Regions from separate parts of the Homo sapiens genome. Here region 2 is linked to region 1. Evidence: fine-mapped expression QTL. A gene starts in region 1. The other region holds a variant in brackets. All regions are shown on one strand. Distances are from middle to middle. Region 1 holds the start of CCNG2 (cyclin G2). Region 2 has its middle 45 kb from the start of CCNG2.

What was found.
Region 2: its variant is fine-mapped to the expression of CCNG2 in esophagus mucosa (GTEx, PIP above 0.99).

Annotation. Positions count from the first base shown.
Region 1 is chr4:77,151,411-77,164,330 of GRCh38, forward strand. CCNG2 (cyclin G2) reads left to right here and starts at 5,797. Exons shown (of 8, transcript NM_004354.3): 1 at 5,797-6,096; 2 at 7,123-7,260; 3 at 7,957-8,094; 4 at 9,311-9,561; 5 at 10,070-10,148; 6 at 10,239-10,337; 7 at 12,864-12,920. The coding sequence starts at 7,123. It overlaps LOC101928864 (a long non-coding RNA gene), which reads right to left and starts at 6,654. Exons shown (of 2, transcript XR_244659.5): 1 at 3,860-6,654; 2 at 3,344-3,566. RefSeq lists an enhancer at 1,184-1,233 and silencers at 2,944-3,013, 5,356-5,475, 5,896-5,965, 5,996-6,105.
Region 2 is chr4:77,195,892-77,208,811 of GRCh38, forward strand. No RefSeq gene overlaps it. Among named protein-coding and RNA genes, the nearest start is that of CCNG2, 45 kb to the left of the region's middle. The variant CGTG/C (reference allele first, on the strand shown) is at 6,101.

The DNA of each region.
Region 1 (12,920 bases):
AAACCCTGAGCAAGGGCTGCCCAGCTGAGTTCAAGCAACGCCCCAGACCTGTGGGTGATGATAATAAAATTATTGTTGTTTTGAGTCACTAAGTTTTGGGTGATTCATTGTACAGCAGTAGATAGCCGAAGCAGTCAGTATGTAACAACTGTTTAAAATTTACACTTTGTCTTGAATTGTCTCGTTTTAAATAAGTATTCACTTTCATATCTAATTTTGTATTTGTAAATTCTTTTTTTCCTAGAGAGAGCCCCTCCAAATAGTAAAGCTTCAAATGTACTACCTTAAATCTGGTTCTACTTCTGCATGTAGCCACAATTTCTTATTCAGAATGTGGTTGAAAACATAAAAATATACGTAATTAAACAGACCTGAGGATCTTTGATATAAAGCAGTCTTTCTTTTTTTCTGAGACGGAGTCTCGCTCTGTCACCAGGCTGGAGTGCAGTGGCGTGATCTTGGCTCACTGCAACCTCCACTTCCCAGGTTCAAGTGATTCTCCTGTCTCAGCCTCCCAAGTAGCTGGGACTACAGGTGTGTGCCACCACACCCAGCTAATTTTTGTATTTTTAGTAGAGACAGGGTTTCAACAGCAGTCTTTCTTTTTAAAGTTAAAAAAAAAATTTCATTTTGAAAACACTTTAAAATGTTAACAGAAGCAAATTTTAAGCTTATACCACTTATCCATATCACTTTAAACATCAATTGCCTTTTCATTTGAGATAAAAAAAGAGATCATGACTCTCACAGACAGTAAAACTTCTTTTGGAAATAAGATGATACATTCAACAGATGTATCCTAAGTTACTCTTTGCTGACAGTGTCAACTTCATATAGCACTGTGATGTCAAGGAAAGACAGGAAATCTCTGAGTTAGGTCATGGTTCTTGAAACAAACCATGAAAGAAAAATGTGTTACATAAAGAATCATGTACAATGTACCAGAATGTAGCCTGAGCCACTTAAAATATATTTTAAGATGATTTTGAGATGATTAGTTCTGATTTCAGGCATTGCCGAATTCTCAGTTCACTCTCCTTTGCCAGGCTTTTCACATTATGTCAAAGCTACTTCATTTATTTCAGTTGATTATTCGTGTAAAAGAGAGAGCACTGGATAACAAAGTACTGAGTCGGGCTTCAGAGTCAACCGAGCATTTAGTTCTCAAGTTCTCAGGTTGCAGAGATAGTTCCTACAAGGCTACTCTCTTGCAGGCTAGTAGAACTGGGAGGGACTAAAGTGGCTGGCTGGAAAAACTGGTCCTCTTGCTGTAGTCATTCAGATGGTGTCTACAGTGTGGATAATTTCCACAATTCCAAAGCCAACCCTACGTAGATAAACACTATGAATGTTTATGAATATGGCCAACCCTTGCATAAACACTCTTCCAAAAAAACAGGGCATGCTTCTAGCATTAACAACAAAAGCAACAAAATATATAGTAAATGGATTGTAAAATGTTGATTTCAAATTTGAGATGGTCTTGTTTGTGGGAAAATCAGAAAGGAGAATATATGAGATGTTTCACTGACTTATTCTGCTGATTGCTTGAAGACAGAGATTAATCATCTGCTATATAAATCATCTCATTCTTCCAGGTTCTGATTTAAAAATGAGCTCTTGGTTGAAAAATCTGCATTACTTCAAGATAGCACCCTATGCTACTATGCTATACCTTCCCTGTTTCTCTTCCTCAGAGAGGCATTCCTGTCTCCATTGCAGGTTCTGTGAAGCAAGACTTATCTAAGCAGGAAGTTTGGGGCTGCAAACCACTTTTTTTTTTTTTTTTGAGACAGGGTTTTGCTCTGTTGCCCAGGCCAGAGTGCAGTGACATGATCATGGCTCACTGTAGCATAGACCTCCCAGGCTCAAGCAATCTTCTTGTCTCAGGCTCACATGTAGCTGGGACTACGGGTGCATGCCACCACGCCCAGATAATTTTTAAAATTTTTTGTAGAGATGAAGTCTCGCTATGTTGCCCAGGCTGGTCTTGAACTCCTGGGCTCAAGTGATCCTCCCACCTCAGCCTCCCAAAGTGCCGGGATTCCAGGTATGAACCACTGTGCTCAGCCTAATGACAGAAAACAGCCCAGGCAGGGACCCAGCAATAGTGAGTAGACGGGGAGGGGGAGTATGGCCTCATGTCAGCTTTACGTATCCTTATCCTCAGGTTCTTTCCTTTCAGGGCTGCTTTCCACCAGACTTCTTTGATGAGGTTAGGGATGATCCCTTCCTTTCCCTTCATGAAGTCACAACATGGTGCAGCCTAGAAATATATAGCTAGTTGCTTTCACAAATGTTTGTATTCAGTCATCACATATGAAGCAGACACAACTACCTCTGGCTTTTTGTTTTCCTCAGTTTAGAAAGCTGAGGCTCAAGACCATGGGAATTATTCAGGGTATTCAAGGCACCATTTCTAATGAGTAGGAAAGCTGAGACACAAAGCCAGTTTGATCCATGGCCAGTGCTTTTGCCCTACACCTCAGACATACCAGGGTATATGCTGGGGCCTTGTTTTATTTATGTATTTTTGTATTCCTGGTGCCTAGTAGCATGCCTGGCACTCAGTGTGTATTCACTAAATTTCGATTGAATAAAAAGCTAGGATTTATTGTCAAAAACCATATCTTTGAGGAGAAAGATGATATTTGGAAAATTGTAGCAATTTTGATGCCTTATGAAGTTCAGGGAAGTCTAAGTCATTTAGGGAAGCACTGCAACTGTCCCATGAGAGTGCCCTATTTTCAAGGTAGAAGCTTAAGTGTGAGCAGGTTTGCAGCACACTTGTCAGGAGTCAGGGATTCACTGAATGTAGTCAGTGTTTCTGTGTGGGCACTCCCTGCTTATTACCCATTCTGTGAGCACCTTTTAGTTTCAGTCTCACATGTCACTGAGGACAATGGGCTGCACATCAGGCTTTCATGGGGTTATTGGTGACAGTATCACCCAACCCCACTGCACCCCTACCACATGCTGTAGAAAACCAAGTATCTTAAATTGTCTGGAAGTTCTTGGGGGCTGCCAAGTTTCTGATTTCCTTATTTTGTATGTGTGCATGATACAGGAAATTTGCCTTCCAGAAAGCTCAGGAAAGGCTAATGGGTAAAGCCTGATTAGCCTAAGGGGAATAATGTCTTTTTCATAAATAACACTTTCAGCTCCGGCAAGGTAAGCCAATGTGATAAGGACAAATAGAATGAGGAGAATTTTTTTTTAAAAGATATATTAACAAACAAAAAATTCTGCAAAGTAAACAGAGAAAACCTACATAATCCCCCAGCCCATTTCCTAAGAATATCATCATTCTTAAAATGAGGTGTTTAAAAAAGAGGATGCTGTATTAATAATTACTGGATCTGTATTTTTAATGATTGCTTTCCTTTAATCTTAAAGAGATAAGTGGACTAACGTGGATAAAGGGCTCCATCTTGGACAACTTGATCAGTCTTTTCTTCTGTGCTGAGCAGGGCCTGCCAAGAGCAGGAAATTCAACGCCATTTACAAAGCTTTCTTGTCTTACTCTCAGAGAAAGCCATCACTGTTCACATCATTCAAGAGGCTGTCTGTAAAAGGACACATAAAATACCAGTTATGAAATATAGAGTACACATTTAGTATAGCTTCATATCATTTAGTGCTAAGCAGCAAGATGATTATGTCAAATAAAAGTTATCACTTATTTATGTTTAAAAGATCAGATAAGCATTGGATAAAATTATGTAGCCTAAGCAAAGGACAATTTCTAAATCTTTTCCTTTTTGTTTTATATAGTCTGTTATTTTTAAAGTCTTCTACCACATAAATTTGCATTTCCTCTTTCACATCACTTATAAAATAACGTATGTTCCTTTTTTACCTTTGCCTTCTTACTTGAAAAAAACATCCCCAGTCTCCTTCATGCTTTGATCACAAACTCTTCATTTCTCTGATGGTGGATAGTTGGTCGAGCTGCTTTCTGTCTGTGGGCCCTGTCCACTCAGCCTATTGATGCTCTGTACAATGAGCTGTCATCTCTGTAATTTTAATCTTAGCTCTAGTCTCTAAGTTAGTTTCATGCTCCTATTATGTTTATCAGCATAGATTTCCAGCAAGATGATTATGTCAAATAAAAGTTATCACTTAATGTTTAAAAGATAAAACAAGCATTGGATAAAATTATGTAGCCTGTAAATCATTTAAAACTGGTGTGCTAATTTTATCTTATTTTCCAAAACCCTCACCAAGCTCACACCTCTCTGAAATAAGTGTTAGCTTTTTGGGCTGCCTTCCCCCAGTTGCTCTGTGCTCCAAACAGATGCCTGTGTTTAGTCCGAGCTAATATGCAAAGGGACCTAGTTTTAAAATTCCTTAGCTGCTCCGCAAAGAAGAGCGCTGCCAAAGCTATGTTGTGTGCCTTCCCATATTTCACAAGTAACAAAATAATTCACAGAAAACACATAGAAGAACAGAAAGGAGAAATCTCTTCCCAGGGACTATCTGATTATGTAGATTAGAACTCACGAATATGGTATTTTCTAATTTAGGAGGGAGAGAGTAAACAAATAAATGTTCCAGGGCAGTCAACCACATGCCCCATTGATATTCCGTGTGAAAGTGTCTCTGGCCTAAGGCACCTGGTTTGTTTGCTTTTTGTCCCGTCCTGGGAGACGTGTCGCCTATAATAACAACGCTAATTATAATGAACAATAAATGATAATTTATGGGTTACCAAGGACCAAGAAGCTCTGGGAGTCTTCATTAAAACAACAGCACTACAACCTCTGGAGGTACGCCGTAATTATTAGATGTTTACGTACCCTCATCAGCGTGCTAAGTTTTTATTGAAAAGCCCCTCCTTCAGTCCCTCCTGAATTTTTTTAAATTATGGAAAAATTCCAAGACACAGAACTAGAAAGAATACTGTAATGCAGCCTCGAGTACCCATCACCCAGCTTCGACCCTCAACTTTTTGCCTATCTTATTTCACCTCTCTTCTCCATTTTTTTTTCTCTTGGACTGTAAAATTTTAAAGCAAATACCCAAACTTGTAGCATTTATTGAATATTTTAGTAAACGCCCCGACAATGTTATAATAATTTGGTGGGTTATTGCAAAATGGAACGCCAAGACAAAATAAAGAAGGAATGTAGAAAACTCTCCCGTGGCTGAAAAGGCTGTCACAAAGGTTAGCTGTTAGGAGAAGCGCCGCGAGCGTGACATTCCCCCAAGAAAGGCGGAGGCAGCCAGGCGAGAAGGCACAGCCCCGCAGGGCAGGTAACTGAATACCTTCTCCGCTGCACACCCAGGCATGCGCAATCCAGACCCTGGAGTTGCTAAGGCCCCAAGGCAGAGAGAGGCTCAGGCTACGGAGAAAGCCAATCAGAGGGCTCCAAGACTGATAAGTTAGCCAATCCAGATTCGAGGGTGAATCAGGTCCTCAGCATGCCCATCGCCCCACCCGCATCCAATCAGAGAGCCGGCTACTTTGGGCGGACTTTTCAAAACAGCGAAAACAAAACAAATCGGGGACCTTTAAAAGGCGTAATGAGACCAGAAACGATCTCCTTCCGCCCCTCTGTCTTCCCCCGTTCCCCAACGCAGATCAATCGCGGAATAAGCCCGACGCCCAGATTCCGCTCTCCGCCCTAGCGCCAGGCGGGAGGACTGGCTCGGCAAAGCCAAGGAGAGCTAGGGAGGCCGCGAGAGAGGCTCGAGACGGCAGCTTAGGGGCGGGACTCTTTTTTAAAGTCCGTGGAGGAAGTGCAGGATCCCTCCGCGGGGAGTCACGTGCCCCGCCCCCTTGGGGGCGTCGAAACTCTTAACAAAAACAAGGGGCTCGGGGAGGTTTCCGCTGAGGCGGCGGGGGTGCGGCGGTGGGCTGGTCTTCCGCGGCCGGCGTTGCGCCGCGGCGGAGGGTGGGCGCGCGGGGAGCGGGATGGAGCCGGGGCTGTGAGGCCGAGGCGGCGGTGCCTGGGAGGAAGGGTCGGATGCCGGACCGGGGGCACCGCTGAGGCGGTGGGTCCCCGACCTGCGAGACAGGTTTGGAAGCCCCCGCTGCGCCCAGTCCGTGCGGACCGCGAGGCCGCGGGCGGGTGGAGGCGCGTCTCCGGCACGGTGAGTGGACCCGCCCAGGGCCGCCGTGGGTTTCTTTGTTCGTGGTGGGGACTGTGGGCTTTGAGGAGGTTGGTACCATGCGAGTGCCTCGGTGCTGCCTGCTCCTCATCCGCTGGAGCGACCAGGGTGCTGCCCTCAGCCCCAGCCCCGGGGGGAGCTGGCGCCCGCGATGGACAGATAGATGCTCGTGGGGTGGAAGGAGGTTGCGACTAGGTTAAGGGCAGTCTCCGCCTCGGTGCCCCCCGCCCCCGCTCGTGTTGTCACGGGGACTTGCTGGCGTGGTGCTTCTCGAATTGACAGCCCCGGGGCTCTGCAGAGTTGTGGGGCCCCGGCATCAGTGGGTGGACGGGTGTTGTCCCTACGGGCGCGGGGCGGGCGGGCTGGACTGGACTTCTCTCCCCGGACCGTAGCCGGGTGTGCCGCGCCACCCCAGGGCTCCTGGGACGGGGGTATCCGCCTCTCGGGTAAGTCCGGAATCGGCGCTGCAGCAGCGGACGGGAAAAGCTGGGGGCGGGACTCTCCGAGAGGGGCTTCTGCAGCTGGGCGCCCCGGGCGGGCGGGGCTCGGGAGTCTCCTCCCTCCGCTTCTTTGTTCAGTCGCGAGACTCTCCCTCCCCTCCCCCCTATTGTGCAACACCCCATCCCCGGGACCCGCTGCAGTCGCTCGCCACACTGCAGTCCCCTGGGCAGAAGGCCCTCCCTGGCGCGACTTCAGGTGGGGCAGACCGAGGGGACGCCGGCGCCCGCGGACAGTTTCCTGTTTGTGAAACGCCAAGAGGCCAGGGCTGGCCGGTCTTACCCAGCGCTGGCCGGCGGACCTGACCACGGCTCCTCCCCCTGCCACACCTCCCTGGCCGTGGTGGGGATTGCCCTGGGGCTCTGGCGGACGTGACTGGTCCCTTCACCCGCTCCTTGTCGGGGTGTGCTGGGGCGACCCTTGCTGGAGGTACTGGCCTCAGCCCTTTCTCCCGCTTCCCCACCCCTCTTACCCCCAGATTACATTCTCTGTGTGGTGTCTTTACTGCAGATGAAGGATTTGGGGGCAGAGCACTTGGCAGGTCATGAAGGGGTCCAACTTCTCGGGTTGTTGAACGTCTACCTGGAACAAGAAGAGAGATTCCAACCTCGAGAAAAAGGGCTGAGTTTGATTGAGGCTACCCCGGAGGTAAGTTGGCAGAAAAGATAACTTGCTCAAGCAGCTGATGGGGCTTGGAGGAGGTAACCCCCCCGCCCCCGTTGAATCATGACTAAAGCCTGCAAAATTTCTTAAAAGTTGTTCTTTCTGGAGTACCAAGATAAACCTTATTACAGGTTAATGCTTTTGTTTCTTAGCAAGAATGAGAGTGATACTTTAGAGAAGTGGGGTTTTTTGTTGTTGTTTTTAATGTGGCACCCTCCTCGCTGCCCCCCATACTCCAGCCTGCAGCTTCAGGATGGGAGACCCCGGGTGAATTGAGTAGTTCATTTGTGCAAACACCCTCTGCCTGTGAAATACATATTTATAGTAGAATCTTAAATGACTTTAGAAAAGCAAACAAAAGAACCCTTTCTCTCCATTCCAAGGGAATTGAATTATATTTGCTATAACTCTCTGAAATCTTGCAACAGTTCACCTTATATTGAATTGCTGAAGCTCTTTTATGATGCGTATTTTTAAGAAGCAGTGATTTACGTCTTACAGATGATAAAGTGTATAGCTTTAGTTAAGCGATACCACTCTTTCCACCTATATTCTTGAAGATTGAGGGAAAAAAATTAACCTTATTCTTGGGAAAAAATTAACCTTATTCTTTGGACCTGTATGTGTTTTTCATCTGGTTCTAAGAAAATTGTAAACCTTGGTTCTTGGTTTTTATTGCAGAATGATAACACTTTGTGTCCAGGATTGAGAAATGCCAAAGTTGAAGATTTAAGGAGTTTAGCCAACTTTTTTGGATCTTGCACTGAAACTTTTGTCCTGGCTGTCAATATTTTGGACAGGTTCTTGGCTCTTATGAAGGTATTTCATCATTTTTATAAATATGTCTTCCTTTTTCTATGCCCAGTGCCTAGCACACAGGGTTCAAGAAATATTTATCGAATGGGTATAATAACGTCCACTGTACATAAAAATTTATAATCAGAATTGTGATCGTTAGTGCCAGAATAAGACTACAAGATTAATTGTATTGTTGTATCTTAGGTTTTTCTGTTGTGTCTTAGGTTTTACCTCTTAAGTACTTTCTCTTGAATATGTGACAAAAGAGAGACTACTATTTTTTAGGTATTTGCCATATATTTATAGTCCTCAATATAAGATTTCATCTGCCATCATGCTTCTCTTGAAGCCAGATTTTTAAAATACTGAAGCATGACAAATGAAGTATAACAGTTTATTAAATATGACCGGCTGCCTTCCCTAGAAGTCTCTTCAAAGCAGGGAGCCATGGTTTTATTAACAGTCACCAGCAATGGCTAGAAAAATGTGGGGAATCTTCTGCCAGTAGGATTGCTGTCAGCTGCTGGGTCAGTTCTCAGGGCACTGAAAAGAAAAGGGCCGCCATCTGTCCATGGCAGCTTTTACATATGTCCCACTCTGCACAACTCGTGATATTTCTCTTGGGCAAAATTACATTGAAATATGGAATGACTCTTAAAGATTTTTATGTAAAAAGATAAGTATAAAATATTTTAATATCCCAGTACATTTTTTTTTGGTGTTAAAAAGCTTAATTTATTTTGGGAGAGATTATATTATGAATTTCATAAGTCTGAAATACAAATTATACTTTAGTGCTAGGAATCTAGCTTTTGAACCTGCATGGAAATTTTTGTACCTGCATTTGAATTTACATAATTTAAAGGTTCAAAAAACTTTTTTTTTTTTTTTTAAATAGAGATGGAGGCTTGCTGTGTTGGCCAGAATAGTCTTGCTATGTTGGCCAGAGTGTTCTCAAACTCCTGGCCTCAAGCAGTCCTCCCACCTCAGCCTCCCAAAGTCCTGGGATTACAGGCATGAGCCACTGTTCCCTGCTGCCTTTTTTTTTGGGGGGGGGGGGAGGTCGAGAACGTCTAAAATGTGAAAATGTGTATAATTGTGGGTAAAGAGCCAGTACATATAAGAGAAACAACTTGATTGTGTTCTGTCTTAAGAATAGGAGCATCATTACAATATTCTAAGTATCTGCTAAGTCAAAGTGACAGTTGTTAAAAGAAGCCTCTTGTTTTTTTCTCAGGTGAAACCTAAACATTTGTCTTGCATTGGAGTCTGTTCTTTTTTGCTGGCTGCTAGAATAGTTGAAGAAGACTGCAATATTCCATCCACTCATGATGTGATCCGGATTAGTCAGTGTAAATGTACTGCTTCTGACATAAAACGGATGGAAAAAATAATTTCAGAAAAATTGCACTATGAATTGGAAGCTACTACTGCCTTAAACTTTTTGCACTTATACCATACTATTATACTTTGTCATACTTCAGAAAGGTCAGTGGGATTAAAGATACATTTTGTACTTTGAACATTGCTATAGCTAACAGTAAATAATTGGAATGGCAATGAAATTTATATTTTTACCTTCTTCAAACTTTCAACTTTGACTTTATTGGTAAATCTTTTTTTTTTTTTTTTTTTGGAGAAGGAATTTCGCTCTTGTTGCCCAGGCTGGAGTGCAATGGCGTGATCTCGGCTCACTGCAACCTCCACTTCCCGGGTTCAAGCGATTCTCCTGCGTCAGCCTCCCAAGTAGCTGGGATTACAGGCGTGCGCCACCACACCTGGCTAATTTTATATTTTTAGTAGAGACAGGGTTTTTCCATGTTGGTCAGGCTGGTCTCGAACTCCTGACCTTAGGTGATCCACCTGCTTCTGCCTTCCAAAGTGGTGGGATTACAGGCGTGAGACACCGCGTCTGGCCCTGGCAAATATTTAAAATCATTTAAAATCATTTAAATCTTTGGAAGTTTAATAAATCTTTGTTCTTTGCATTGTATAGGAAAGAAATACTGAGCCTTGATAAACTAGAAGCTCAGCTGAAAGCTTGCAACTGCCGACTCATCTTTTCAAAAGCAAAAGTAAGTCGATTCCTTGCTTATGTATATATCTCACAGTTTGTATTTTGAATTTTTAAAAAATATTTTTCTTTTTTTTCTTTTTTCTTACAGCCATCTGTATTAGCCTTGTGCCTTCTCAATTTGGAAGTGGAAACTTTGAAATCTGTTGAATTACTGGAAATTCTCTTGCTAGTTAAAAAACATTCCAAGGTAATTACAGTCATTATTCTTTAAGGCAAATTTTTTTCCTGATGTTTATTTTTTTCTGTGGTGACTTAAACATTAAGTAATACTTTATGGGACTCTTAACTTTTACACTTGTTTTTTTTCTTATATCTCTAGTGTTAAAGTTCTCAAAATGCAGCTTTGACCCAGACAGTATTAATCCGGAAGGGAACCTGGTCACTTAGCTCAGCTTCTTTCTGCATATAGGTGCCCCTTCTGTAGTAATCATGCCATATGATAGTACAGCTGTTACATTGCCACATATGCATTGTTCTGAAATGCATACTAGGTAGTAGACTCAGAACAAACACTAATGGGATAGGATGGGATCCCATCACACCTGTAGGACTGAACTGTCATCCCATTAGCAGCAGCATCAATTAACACCAGCAATGTTGATGTTTTAAACCCGAATGTCTTTTCAAATCCTTTAGGCCAGCTAAGTAAAAGTAAGTCTTACCATCACAAAGAGATATAAAACAAAAGCACAATACTTTTTCTTAAACTCTCAGTCTAGTTGGGGAAATGAGGAACTTAACATGAAGTGGTGTGTTCTGTCATTTGTTATTGTGTCTTGGTGCCAGGTAATAGTGAATATAGAGAGTACTTTGGGATTTTTTTTTTTTTTTTTTTTTTTTTTGAGACAGTCTTGCTCTGTTGCCCAAGCTAGAGTGCAGTGGCATGATCTTGGCTCACCGCAACCTCAGCCTCTCGGGTTCAAGTGATTCTCCTGCGTCAACCTCCCGAGTAGCTGGGGCTACAGGTGCTCACCACCATGCCAGGCTAATTTTTATATTTTTGGTAGAGATGGGGTTTCGCCATGTTGGCCAGGCCGGTCTTGAACTCCTGACTTCAAGTGATCCCACCTGCCTTGGCCTCCCAAAGTGCTGGGATTACAGGCGTGAGCCACTGTGCCCGGCTTACTTTGGGTTTTTTTTAAGCAAAGAAATAGGGCAGACTAGGAGAAACACTATGACTGGGAGCCTGTTTGGAGCAAAAGAATCTTTGACAGTGAAAGTTTCAGCGAAGGCTTAACGGCCAAGAAATTGGTGGACTAGACAGATATAAAAGTCATTTTAGGGTAGACTTACAGGTACAATGTCTAGGTGGTAGTCACAAGCAGGAGTAAGGCTGTCCAACTCAAACAGTGGTTTTGGAAGCCAAGCATGGAAATGAGGCAAGGAGTCTTGAATGACCAAGATTTGTACCTAATGGTGGATATAATATTAGCATAATTGGCAGGAAATTTGGGAGAAGTTAATTTGTGATGAGAGCAATATGATTTTAGATGCTTGTGTACACAGGTGGGTGTCTAGTAGGTGTTTGGCGTTTTGGAATAAGAAGATAAACTATAGTTAGAGATTGAGGTTTGGAATTTCTCATGAAGAAGCAGTAGTTGAAACGGTAAGAAGCTGTGGAATCCTTTTTGTAGGGGTCAGTTGAAGCTCTGGGGTTTTCAGCGTTGGCCTTTCCCCCCAACATTAGGAGCCAAGTGAAGAAAGGTACATCCCCACAAGTAGAAGCACTGTCAGACTGGAAGGAGGTTTTTAAGGAGGTGGTCAGGAGTATTGAATTTTTATAAGAGATCCAATATAATGAAAATTGAAGGTCATTGGGTGTGTCAGAGGTAATGTCAGTAGAGCAGTGAGAAGGAAGTGGTAGAAACCAGATTACAAGTGGGTTAGGATGTAGCTACATTAGGTGAAAATGGGAAGCCAAGAAAATAGATCTTCTGTTTTCTGGTGAAAATATGTGCATGTGAAGCATTTTGTTTGTAACAGATAACTTTTTGCTTTAGTTATGATTTTATTAGTTTTTATCTGAACTTTTTATTGATAGTGATAGCTGGAACCATCTTCAGTGAAAATTGATTCGTTGAAATAAACTGAAGGCATTCCGAAGGAGGAGGGAAAAAAATACGTAAAAAGAAAAACAAAAAAGAAATAAACTGGAGCACTGCCCAGTGGTGGCGGAACTATGTCCTTTTTGGGAAATTCCTGTTCTCTCATATCACTAACTTCTTTAGTTTTGTATCTGGTGTTATAAGTGTGTATTACCAGCAATCCAAACAATGCCTTGTTGCAGGAACCCAAATTGGTTTCTGTAACAAAAGGAATGTTAAATTCCTTTGCATTGAGACTAAGGACTATACTTGATAGCTGATTTATTAACAGACCCAGAGTGTTTTTAGGTCAGTGTTTTCTTAGAATAGGCAAAGCTTTCTGTGTATTGAATCCTATGTAGTTTTATACTTACGGTGCTCTTCTCCTAAACCAGTGGTTCCCAAATTTTGAAAGTTTGGCTGCACATTACAATCACCTAGGGAACTTAGAAAACTCTTGATGCCCATGTTGCACTCATTGTCAATTAAATCAGAATACCAGGGGTGGAAGCGGGTAGTGGGAGCCAGGCATCTATATATATATATTTTTCATAGCTCACCTAGTGATTCCAAGGTGCAGCAAGATTTGGGAGACATTGCCGTAACCTCTTAAAATATTTTTTTTTCAGATTAATGACACTGAGTTCTTCTACTGGAGAGAGTTGGTTTCTAAATGCCTAGCCGAG
Region 2 (12,920 bases), 44 kb after region 1:
AAAACCAAAAATCCAAACTAATACTGATAGATCACTGGGTCTTCAGGACTTTTCACCTAGGCTAACAGTAAAGACACTGGAAAGTTCATCTTTCCCACCTCAGGCAGAGCAAAATATCTACTACCGACCCAATTAACTATAGTTTCAACTGCAGGTGAGTCCTATGGAACTGATGTCTATATGTAGGTGTTATTGCATAGGCTTCTGGGGCATGCCACATAGTTCTAGAAAAACTCACATGGCTTAGGAGACAAGTTTAAAGTTATGGCTGGAGAGCAAGGTAGAAGGGGCTGAAACATCTCAAATATCAACTTCCTTTTAGAACAAGATGTGGAGTAGTGCAGGATTTGTCAATGGCACTCCCGCCATTCCTAAGGCTGCTTATGTACTTCTGAGCTTTGGCCTGATGCGTGTTTGTCTGTCTTGCAACTGGCCTCACTCCAATCTGAACTCCTGATGTCTCTTAAAGCTTGCCTGAGAACCCAGCTTTTTAGTAGCTCAAATCCTTACTATCCCTTAGGATAGCATTACTTTGAAAATCCTCAGTTGTGCCAAGACCATTTCGGATTCAACCTATTTTTGGGGTTCCTGCTTAGTGTCTAGTGTCTACCTAGAGCTGCTTGATGCCAGAGGCTAGTGGCTTCTTTACCAGGAAACTGATGGTAGCCATGTCACTTCTTGGCATCAAACCTGTCTAAAACAGTCCCTAGCTGAAGACGACTTTCTTCCTAATTGTCAGCCATTCAGATGAGAGAAGTTACAGGTGGTCGAAGGTGAGAACTAAGTGATAGAAACTGGAACCAGGTGTACTGAAACTCTTGACTCTAGGAGAAACTAATTTCTTGAGGGATTTGTTAAAGGTAACTTATCAAGACCCACTTCCTCCCAATCTACACAGATTACATGTTTAATTTGGGCCAGTAACTTTTAAGTCTTTAGAATCTTGACATAATCTAGCAAAGTAAGACTGCTCTAGGTGTGGCAGGAAGCATGTAAGCAGAACCCCTTGCTGGCCTGCTGCCGCAAGGAGCCCAGAGAATCCCCGAGGCATTGGAACAGTCTGAGGGGTCTAAACATACTTTTGCTTATTGAGGTGCTTGCCCACTAGAGTTCTCCGAATCAGTCCCTGATGAGGGAGGTGCCTCAAGCTTGCAGCTGTGGTCACAGGATTAACTTCTCAATTCTCAGGCTACCCATAGGGAGATGCCATATCTTGGTTTAATCCTGTTTCTGTGGCAGATTTCAGCTTACTGCTCACACTCTGGGTCTCACGGCTCCTATGACATCAGTTTCAGTACTGTAGGTCTGATCTTCAGTTGGGGGTGGTGCTGGAGAAAGTGCTCTCACTAGGGAGCTGGGCCCTCACTGTTTCTGAATCCTCTGATCCATAAAGCAATTGTAGTGTGCCTACAAACGGGCCCTCTGACATCTGACTTTCAAATGGTTGGGATCTTTTTCCTCAGGGAATAGATTCTTTAAAAAAGCCCCTGAGTGAGAGCAGAGCGGTGGCTGGAGGTTATTCGGGCTAAATGGTTTCTCCGGCTGCCACCCAAACTGAAATGCTTTACCTAGCAATGGTCATGAGGCAGGTGACTGGAGCAAGTAACTGCTGGTAGCAAACGAGCCTGTTGAAGCATTTGTGCAGGACTGGTCTGACTGGCCTGGAGAGATTAGTTAACACCCTTGCACACTGAGCACACTCCAGAGGGGAGTCCCTGCCCTCCAGGAACTTACAACGTAGCTTGAAGGAACATGAAGACCCAGCTGTAGCTTGTTACTTAATGGCAATAGAAAATGGGTGAGGGAGTGCTGGCTGGGAATTGGAACTGACTTTCAAGTCTGGGTTTTTTCCTGTGAAGTAATTCTCAATGGAGTAGACTTCAGCTCTGGCCTAAACGCTACATTACAGTGCCTTTGTGTATCTAAATTCTGGTGTCTAATCTGGAATAACCTTTCCCAACTATGTGACAGAAGTTTGGGCGCTCTAGGAAGCATAAAGTGAGGGGGATGGAACTTGTCTTCAGTAGGTAAGCCCTGTAGATGACAATGTGGTCTTACTTCCTTAATGTGGTGGCCTGGTAGAAGCATGGCTAAGTTGAGATGGGGAAGAAGCCTAGGAAAGCCCAGGATGACTTCTGGTCTATTTTACTGCTGAAACAGTCTGGAGAACTTGTAGAGATGCAAAAATTCGTCATGATCAACAGGACAGTCAAAGGGACCTAATGTGCCATGTGTCTTTGGGACTGGGGTTAGGAACTCCCAGATAGAAGGGGATGTGATATAAACAGAACAGTCTTGTGATTTTGTCTAGTTCTGAAATCACCTCTTTTTAAAGAGCTCTCAACTCCTATCTGCAAATGTGTTTGGAACGCTTCCAGATCAAGTTCTCTGTGCATCCTCTTTAGAGGGAATTTATAGGAGCCTCTAGAACAGTGCTGAGACACACGAGCCAAAAGTATAAGCCATATATAGTCAGTCCCATTAAAGAAAAACGAATATCTTTAACCCAAGAGATGCTTATTTTGACATGTAACCCAGCTTATTCTTGGTACTGAGCCTGGTATGCATTTTAAACTTAGTGTATCAATTGAGATGGGTCCTATCAAGTGCTCAATGAATAGTGGTTATATTGGAGAGCACAGCTCTGGATAAAACATAACTTTAAGTTTTTGTTTTTGTTTAATTCATTTGTTACCGCTTTAGGGAAATGCTGATCTAAAATGACGGTAGAATGTAGTGTCTGTATTGCTGTCTGAGTGCAAATCCTTGGAAACTTCCAGGAACTAGTAGGCTAGAACCACTTGTATTACTTGGACTTTGTCAGAATGACTGCCTTTGTGTAAAACACCATTCTGTCAGCAATATGACCATTTTCCATACCCCTAGCAATCACTTTGATTATTGTGGGTAAGCTTTGTCCTGGCATCTTCTATGCCATCTATATCTAAAGCACCCATTCCAAAGCTCATTTTAGTAACTTATTTGTCCTGAGCACGGGAAATGGGAAGAATACAAGTAGCTCTCATTCAATATCTTCCAGTTTTCAGTTTGGGTTACTGGTATTCTTTAGATCCTGGACAACACACTGAGAGGTTACAGGTGTCTAGAGATCAAGTACTTGAGAGCATTTAACATCTATGCTGTAGTGCCCAATTCCTATCCCAAAAGCTCAAGCGCCCACAACTCCCCTTCCTATTATACCTAAATCAGGCTGGAGTGTGCTTTTCAGTGATGTGCTATATTAGCTTTCTAAGCCAACAGGAGTATATACCTTATTCAATTTACTTGGACTTGATGTTGATGTGTTACCTATAAGGACCAGTGGTAAACACCTGAACCTAATCAAACCTCATCTAGAGAGGAGGGGGCAGTCTTCTTGTCTTCAACACAACTGCTTAACACTTATTTCTACGGAAACTGACTTGGGTTGGATTGGGGTTTAGGACAGCTGGGATGGCTTATCCGGGAGGCATGTGATTTTTGCCAAGAAGGAAGTTTTTGGTCTTGTGGAGTTATCACAGGAAGGTAGATGGGTGTCCATTCCTCTGACCTGTGTCAGAGCTGTGGGGAGGCTGAAGAGCAGGAAAGACAGCCCCAGGCTGAAGCTGGGCTGGGCTGCTGCAAGGCCAGTGTCTGCAATTAGGGAAGAAAGGCAGCAGCCACCATGTTTAAGAACTTTTAACTTGGCTCTCTCAGAATAGAACCCCTTGGCATATCTAGAAAGTAGGAAGCTGTCAAATCAGTAGCATTGGCTGTGCTGAAGCAGTTCCCTTGGATTTGGGGGCAGTTGACAAAAATACTAACCAGAACATGGACCAACTTGTTTATGAACCCACTTGAGGCCCGGAGTTAACTAGGGCCATTACCTGGAAGCTCCTGTGCTCTTCCCCTCACTGCTTTCTCTGTATGATGCTAGATTATTTGTGACTGATACTGAGGGTAATGAAGAATCTCAAACACTGTCTGGCTTTGTTGTGTATGACATTTAAGTGAGCCAAATACTTGAGCTCCTCTGGCAAGTGTTCTGCTTTAACCAATTAGCTTGTATAACAGACTTGGCTATCTTGTCACTTGGATTTGAGTGTGATGGAAGAGTTGTTTCCCTCACCTTGTGTGAGCCTCTACCAGCAAGTTAGCCTGTTGGGGAGGCAACTAACACTTTATGGTAATTGGAGCAGTCCTTCCTACAACTGTCTTCTCAACTTGATCTTAGTTACTGTTCTCTTAGGCAGAACTTGCCCATATTTCACTTACCAAGGAGTATTTGGAAAGTTTGTCTCAGAATAAAAACCAGTGATTCCCTCGACTCAGCAGCAAAGGCATCCAATGTTTCACCCAAGCTAAACTTTGGCTATTACTCCAGCATAAAAAGCACTTGTCTAGGATGAGTCTGCATATGTCCATCCTGGTCTTGAGCTAATGCGACATGAACAGTTTGACCAAAGATGAGCTTGAGACTGGCCAGACATGTGACCTAATGGAAGATAATTATTGTACACATACACCTGTAACTGCCCTTGAATAATGAATCAGTCTTGACGGAAATAAAGCCTAGCAACAGCAAAGGACCCAATGCACGGGAAAACTCGCTGGTGTCCATTTGACTTAGGCTGAGAGAAACATGCTGAACTCCCAGCTGTCAGTTTGTCACCTGCCGTGTAATATTTCAGTGACTATTTTGCTTTGTCCAAGACTCCATAGGATTTGAGTGCATAGGTAAAGACCCTCCCTGGTGATAGAAGCTTCTTCCAGTAGATACTCAGTCACAACCATGATTCAGAGGGGCTTTCTTGATGTCTTAAATTTCAACACGTGGAATTGCATTTTAAAGTTTTTTGCTTATGATCAGGTACTAAGTGGATTGACTGCATTTTGTCAACTTTACTGGTAGTAGGCATGTCCCTAGTTATATGGGGACATGTACAATTTGAACTAATAGATCTGTTAGCTCATAAGAAATCAGAGTTCTCACAAATGCTAGCTGTTGCTTGCTATTCTATTCTCCACCCACCCCCACCATTTGTAGGAGCTGGGTATCTTTAGCATGTCTTTCAAAGATTTCTATACCTCTCACAGGGTTGAGAAAGACTTGTCAGATCAATAGATGAGACACATTCCCAGATGAACTTGGAAGTAGAACTATAAACAATGCCATGGGTATCCCCAAACCTATGCAACATTGTTTTGAACCAACACAGCCTCTACAGGTTGAGGAAGCCACACTTATTGGTATACTTCATAGTGAATTCCCCACTGCTGTGCAGTTTCTGCTCAAATTTCTACTAGGTGGTTTCACGTCACTTCCAGTTACCATGCTTCTGGTCAATTTGGGGTGGATTTTTAAGAACACTCTGGTTCCATATATAGCCATCTCTTTGGGTTCTCTCAGCATTCTGGTTCTATTTTCATGTTCATACTAGTTACTTTTGCCTAATCTTATACCACTTCCCACCCACCTCTTGTCATCTTTTAAGGTTCTATTTCCCTATCCTTAATTCTTACTGCTTTGCTTTAAGGTTGTTGGGTAGTGAGCTGATTTCCTCTTAATGTCGCAGGCATTTAAGACCATATACATACTGATTCATGAATGTATAGGACCATGGTGACTATGAACAGACCAGTCATGACTCAACTTGCAAAATACCTATGAATGTGGACAAGGAATAGTATGTACAAGAGTCACCCAGACTTGACTTCATGCCATTGTTCTGAATGCTCTCATATTGGTTCACTTATAGGAGTAACTACCTCAGGGTTTTATTTTATAGAGAAAAACTGAGGCTCAGTGTCACCCTCACAATCTCTCAAACCTAGGAAATTGTTCACTTTAGGTTGTTTTGAAGTCTTTCCATATACTACTCCTCTTACAGTGACTTGCTATAGCTTGCCTTGAGAACAAACGTCTCACTTTAATGCTTTATGGTTAAGGGTCAGGTATAACTCGGATCAATAAGCTAAACCTCTAAAATCAAATAGTCGGGTGGATGTCATTCTTACCTTGCTCAACAGGAAGCTAGATGTCTTAAGACCACTCATGCTACAGGAAATGATTGTTTCCCTGTGCTTACCTGGCTCTTGAGTACACTGACTCAAATGTCAA[CGTG/C]GTGGGTAACATGGGGCTTCTATGAAAAGCTTTTGGTGTGGCAGGGTGTAATGGGTTAAATGTCCTGAGCTTAGTCATGTACTTGATTGTCTATGACTAAATGACCAAATAGACATAAAAAGGGTGGAGTAAATCTGTCATAATTTACAGCATATCTTGCTGTTCTTTTTTTCTCCCTTTTCTCTTGGCCTGTGGCTTAACTGCACCTAACATCTCTCGGGAGTGCCTTAATAAAACCAGTTAAGGACTGCTTGTTTTATACAAGCAATGTATTCATATACCTTCCTGTTAACAGTAAAAATCTAGACTAGCGTAACAATACTTGTCTGATTAGTGAGGCAATTAGTATGTCACCTGACAAACCAGAACTGATAGAAATCTTATTTGGAGGTGTTACCATAATCAGTTTCTATTTAACCTGACATACCTGAGAAAGCATTTATGGGCCGGATCTGCCAGGAATATGACATCTCAACTACTCTGTCCTTGGTGGTTATCACCTATATGATAATCTGAAGCTAAACCTGCACAAGGTCTTCCTTATACAAAGTGTATTGGGACCTGAACCCCAGGTTTGGGTCCACAGCCAGATAACTAGTTCTGCAAGAAGAGGTGTTAGTATGGTTGTGAAAACACCTTCCCCATCCCCTGACTCACCTTCCTGTCAACTGCTTCCTACTGGAATTCCTCATGAATAGGTGGTTAACACCTTGTACTTTGTCCTAAACAACCCAGTTTTGTCTCACTCACCCCGTCTTCCTCTCCAGCTTGTTCAAGTCTCTTGTTCAAGTCATTCCACTTCAGGCCTGTTAAGACTACTTCTCTTGACACAAATCTCCAACCCACAGACTTTCTCATTCCAGCTGTTGCCTTTATTGACTTTATTTCCTTGTTATAGTATCTTTCATTTATTTAACCCCATGGCTTTTTTTCTGGTAAATCTCAACCCTTCGTGAATCCCAAATGTCTTAGTCCTAATACTAGAAAGATAAGGCTTGGCTGAGTTAGACTATGGTAGAACCATGTCTCTAAACTTATCACTGACTTCTGATGTATCTTTCCAACTCCCAAATTTCGCAGAGGGGAGAGAAGCTAGAAAAACAGGGTTGTTGGGCAATCTTGGTAAACTTGGGCCCTTCTAAACATGTAGCTTTTGTTTTATTCTTGTAACAAGTTTTTCCTTGCTTTCAGGTTATAAACGAGTGAGTAAAACATGAGATAATGTCCAGAACTCAGTGTAGCAGGAGTTGATTGATTTGCTCTGGTCTCATATGCTCACCAATTCCTCCACATTAAACCCACCAAATTAAGTAGCTGCCCTACTCTAAAATGGTTCCACCTACTGACTCCTTGTTCCTTTCTGAAATAGTCCTGGTGTCTCTGATTGCTAGAGGCTAAGTCCTGTGACTGTGTCCCTAGCAGCAGCAGGGACTCTGGGAGAGAGCCCTTGGGATAATGGGTCTCGATGGGAGAAACCCCTCAAACTGGGGTCATGAGGCCTTCCAATGTGACAAAGTTCCACAACTATGCTGAACTGGTCCTAAGAAAAGCTTACATGACTGCATGTCTAACCAGCATAGCAGATAGCCATGGCTCACCTGTGCTCTTGAAGACAGTATGAAATTGAGACCAAGTAGCTTACTCTACTCGACTCTGAGTAAATGTTTCAACGGTGTCTATGCTGCTGTGGTAAAGCATTCACTCCAAACGGGGAGCATCCTTACGTCCAGCTCACTTTTCAAGAGTTAGCAAAGTCATGGCTTTGCAACTCAGTCAAGCTTTTATGGTTACTAAGCGCCCCCTGTTGATGGCAGTTTAAAACTGGTTGTGCCCCATGCTTCAAAGTGGCAAGACCCCGTGTGTCTAATTCCTGAAACAGTCCAAGGCTCCAAACATGAGGGCAGGCCCCGTTAGGTCCTCTCTGGCAGCTTTTGCTTCACCCTTGCTTCATTGTTTGGGCCTCTTGCCTCTTCTCCTAAGATGGCTTCTAGGGTTGGCATTATCAACACAATCCCTCCATTCCTTCCACACAAGGCTAATTGCTTTGTTCTCATTTGCTCAAGGTATATGAGAATAAACATAGCTGCAAATCTTGAGCTGGTTTTGAGAAACCTGTTTCCCTAAACACCTTCTTGTGCTTGGATGGAAGGCTTAGGACCTTAGCCTAGTGCCTAGAAATGGCTGATCTTCTAGTGAGTTAATAGGTCTCAACTACAGTTAAAGTTAAAATGACCCCGACTAGCTTTTGAGACTACCTAAAGGACCCATTTGGTTCTGATCTGCCATGGACCAATACTTTGTAAAACACAATAAATAGAAAATGCCAAATTTTGTTAAACCCACACCCTAGCAAACAAAGGGGAAGAAATACATGGTTCGTTGGAAGAACATACAGGTGACAGGTGACGACTACAAATGTACAATGATAGTTATCTAGAGGTAACTGAGGTACATGTTAATGTTCTTGTACAGAATGACTATTGTGCATATAGTGCTTAATGTACTGAGTTCTTCATGTGACAAATAAGCTTGTTTAACCTACTGAATCTAGGTTGGAGTGATAGCAATGCTACTCAGAGGAAAACAACCAAAAGGCTTTGTTTTAATAGCTTTCACAGCAGAGGCCAATCTCACATCCCTCAGAAGTATGTTGACCAGAACAGAAGAATTTAAAGCTATTGTAGCAGAATTGGGGTATATTTAACTTTTAAAATGAAGTAATGCTTTATTTTAAACTCATCTCTAATCCTTCATCACCATCTAGTTACAATGGCTTATCTTAGAAGGCTACAGTTATCTTCCTGAAAAGCAAATGGATTCCAGATGTGAATTTTTCCTATACATAAATCTTTTGATGGAAAGCAAAATCCAATGTTCTAATTCAAAAGGTATGTCTTGTAGATGTGCAATATCAACTACTGATTTATACCATGTGAAGTTATGTAACTTCTATTTTTGAAACACTTAAGTTATCTAGTCTCTGCTTTTCTCTATCTCTTCAATATTACCCAAGGGAAAAGAACCTGGATGGGTTAATGAGACTAGGAACAACTCATGGCACATATGTAGTTAACCCTTCTAGAGAGAACTGCCCTCATGAGTTTTATGGTACTTGTTTTACTTCATGAATGTATATGGAAGGATTGCTCACTGAGTGGGCTTACGTTACTCAATGGTAGAAGACTTGCTCAGCCTAGTTCGGGGGCCCACTTCCAGCTTTGGTCCTCTGATTCAGTGAAACAAAGCTTGTCTGATCTTGATTTCAGGTGTAGTTCCCAATTACTTTCAGAACCCCATGGGGAAAGTGAGGTGAATGGTACCTCAGACACTTAAGCCCTGAATTTCTATGGCAGTCTTGCTGTGGCACACTACCTGCATATTGCTGATGGCCTCATATCCAGGGCTCCACACTGGCATGTAAAAGGTACAGGCCAGTCTGAGGGTCTTCAAAGGCTTTCTAGGTTCCCTGAAAGTGTGGCATTAGGAGCAACAGGATCAGACTCCCCCCGCCCCCAGCCGCCCCCTCCTCCCCTACCCCGCCACGGAGAGGAGTACCACTATCAGGGCAAGACAAACGTGGAACTCGGCCAGGTCCTGCTCCGTATGGAAGTGAGTGTCTTGGGCAGTGGGGTCTCAGAAGCTGTTTGATAGAATCTCTAGGTAAGCCTCTCCTCCCACACATGCTAGTTTGGCACACAATGGTCCTGACTTCCTGAGACAGATGAGTGTCTATAATTTTGGTCTAATGAGAAGGTCCTGGGACATTAAGCATCTTCAGGTTTCACAGTGAGAATTGCAGATGGTGTTCACAGCTTTCCCATACAATACTGAAGTCATTTGTCTAGATGTACTGAGTCCAAACTAGGGATTGCTTGAAGGAAAGACTTTCTCTAAGGTCTTCATTTCGTTTGGTGGGAATGTCAGATTGGGTGGGTTACACTAAGGGAAGAAATGAACTGCTTCTAGCAATACCTCTGTGGTGAAGTCTGGGGAGGAGAAATTAGAGTGGCAAGATAACAGATAGTTGGAAGTCTCTCACTGCTTTCCCGGAAGAAGTAGCAAACATTTTGAGGGGTGAGAGGAACTTCCCAGCACAGGGTTAGAGGAGCTCTTAAACACAGGTAAATTTCAGGAAGCTTTGTGAATTTGACTATGGGGCTGTGGCTGGATTCTTGCTCAGCTCCAATCTTAAATAGAAGGCAACCCTTTACCAGTAGGATCTAGGGAATTTTGGCCAACTTTGTCAATTCTGACCCTGAGCATAATTTTGGGGGGGGTTTCCAAGGTATATGGATGAGTCTGCCTTGGATTAGATTCTGCATCTCGGCCTGTGGTTAGGGGAGTGCTGAATGTAGGCCTGGGGAATGCATTTAAAGGCAATCAATACTAGCAGGGGTAGGAAGAACAACTTCTATGGTGTCAGTTTGGATCCTTTGTAGTTAAGTGCAAGAGACTCAGTGGGGGTAATACTTGGGGTGGGGGGTGGAAGGGAGTTGGAATAGGAGCAGCAAGGGAGAATCTTCAGGTCTTACAGGTGTAACACCTGTGCAAGGAACCAGGGAAGGGAAGAACAGGTAGAGCCCCTGCCCTGCAATATGGGTCTGCAATAGTCTCAGCCAGGTCAAGTAAGTTCAGTACCTTTTCCAAGATGGACCCTTCCTGGTGGGTGTTAATGTGAGACACACAGCTCCACACTTCATACATAGCCTTACTATGTCCATCCACATTCCTCTACCCAAATCTTGTCTCTGACCGTTCAGTCCTTTGTTCCAGGCTGCTGACTGGAAAGTGATGCCATTGAACCACCTATGTATATGTGCATTCTCATCTTGGGCCCTTTGTGATACAAAGTAGCTGACCAGGTATACTGCTTGTGGAACCCGACCCGTTGGGAACCAGGCCAGACACTTGGTTGAACTTGTAGTGCTTTAATTATCCTCTAGTATCTAATTTCGTCATGGGCTAGAATGCAGAATTGAACAGATAAGGACCACCAACCATATTTGCTTGATACTTAAGCATGGCACTAATGTTGACCATCCCCTACAGGGGTGCAATACTTGTGACTTAATATCTTGGCTGGGGTAGGGACAGTTTCAGAAGTTTCTAACTGGCCCTGCTGTGATGCTGTTACTTCACATGGCTAGGGACCCAACGTAGGGATTTATTCAAATGACAAGCACATCAATTTCAATTGTGTACTCAGGGGAAATATTTCTGGGTGGGTCTTCGGACCTAGTGGACCAACTGTCAGCCAAACATCTGCAAGAACTCCATTTCCTCAGTCTGTACTAGGGTATAATTTAAAGCTGCAATCTATTTCTCAAATGGAAGATAGTTGTAACTCCTGTGTGTGTGTACTTTAACTTGTGGCCATAATGCTCTGGGTGTCTAGATGGCAATGTCAACTCAGTTGCTATGCCCGATGGTTCACGAATTCTTTAGTTCAGTGTATATTAACATGGATGTCTGCAGAGGGAGACTTGCTAAGAACCCTTGTCTGCTCAGCTAACCAGGTCCTCCAGCTATATCTCAAGGTCTTGACATGAGAACCCCTGCTTCTGGGAGCACCGGAAGGTAGAACTGTATCTGAGTAACTTCAGTGTGGCAATAACAATCTGGTTAACCCTAAAGGTGTTCCCAAAGTTGGTAATGGGAGGTAGGGTCAGGGAATGAAAGCATAAAGTAAACCTTACTGCTGCTCTGTGAAAGGGGAAGTCTAGAAAAAGCATCGTCCGTATACATGGAACAAAGCTTAAGAAAACTTGCAGCTTGGTTTTGCCAGTACCAAGCTGAGGGAGGGGAGCAGATTCTTACAAGAGTGTCAGCACTTACCTAATGGGTCAGGGAAGACACTGCGTAGTGTTATACAAGACAGTAACATGGTCAGACTGGTATGTTCAACATAGCAACATCTCAAGTAGGAAAACTGACTTTGGGGATTGGAATAGGTGTCATAAGAGTGGGTAGTAATAGACATGATCAGCTTCCAGGCTTCTGGTATGGGCACTGCTGTGTGGTAGTGCCACTAATAGAGGATACAATAGAAGAACAAATCTGGGAGGGGAAAAGTGAGTTGTTACTGTCCTACCTAACCTTAGGATTTAGATCTGGTATAAACCTAGCTTATGATGGGGAGCTCCAGTTTGGGATATTACTTGGTGCGAAATGTTCAGGACTCAGTCTCCCCTGGGGTCTAATAGTTTTAAGTCATGGCCTATTTCTCAAATGCAGAATAGTTCTGTCATAGATCGTGCCTTGCAGTAGAAACCTAGGGTTTTATGTTTGGATTTTCCAGAGGTGTCATGTGGCATCTTCATGCATCACAATTACTTCCAGCACCATGTTAGATCACCTAGCCCAAGCAGTAGGGCACCTTTATGCTGCAACCTGCAACTACTACAGGTATGCTTTTCTCCTGAACTTAAGGATCAGTAAGCTCACTAGATGGTTTTAGAACCATGGCACTTCTCAAGGTATGGACAACATTCTCAGGATGTACCCCTTGTATGGTGCCCTGCTCCTCATGAAGAAAACTCAAACTGCGTTTCTCCAGGACGTTAATTTTGGCACTAGATGCTTCCAGGCATCTGCATCATCCCTTCCAAACTAAGGGAATTTAAATAATTCATGCTTAATGCACTGAGGGCCATGGAGCCCCTGCTTTGGGTTGGTGCTTGCCCTGGTGTGTCCTTTGGGGTGAGTGACCCATGTTCAACTACTGGTAACATGGAACCCTTCAGAAGCTGTCAGGGTGTGGTGCTTCCTCCTACAATGGAAGGAAGAACTAGGGACTGCACACAGGTTTGGGAGGTCT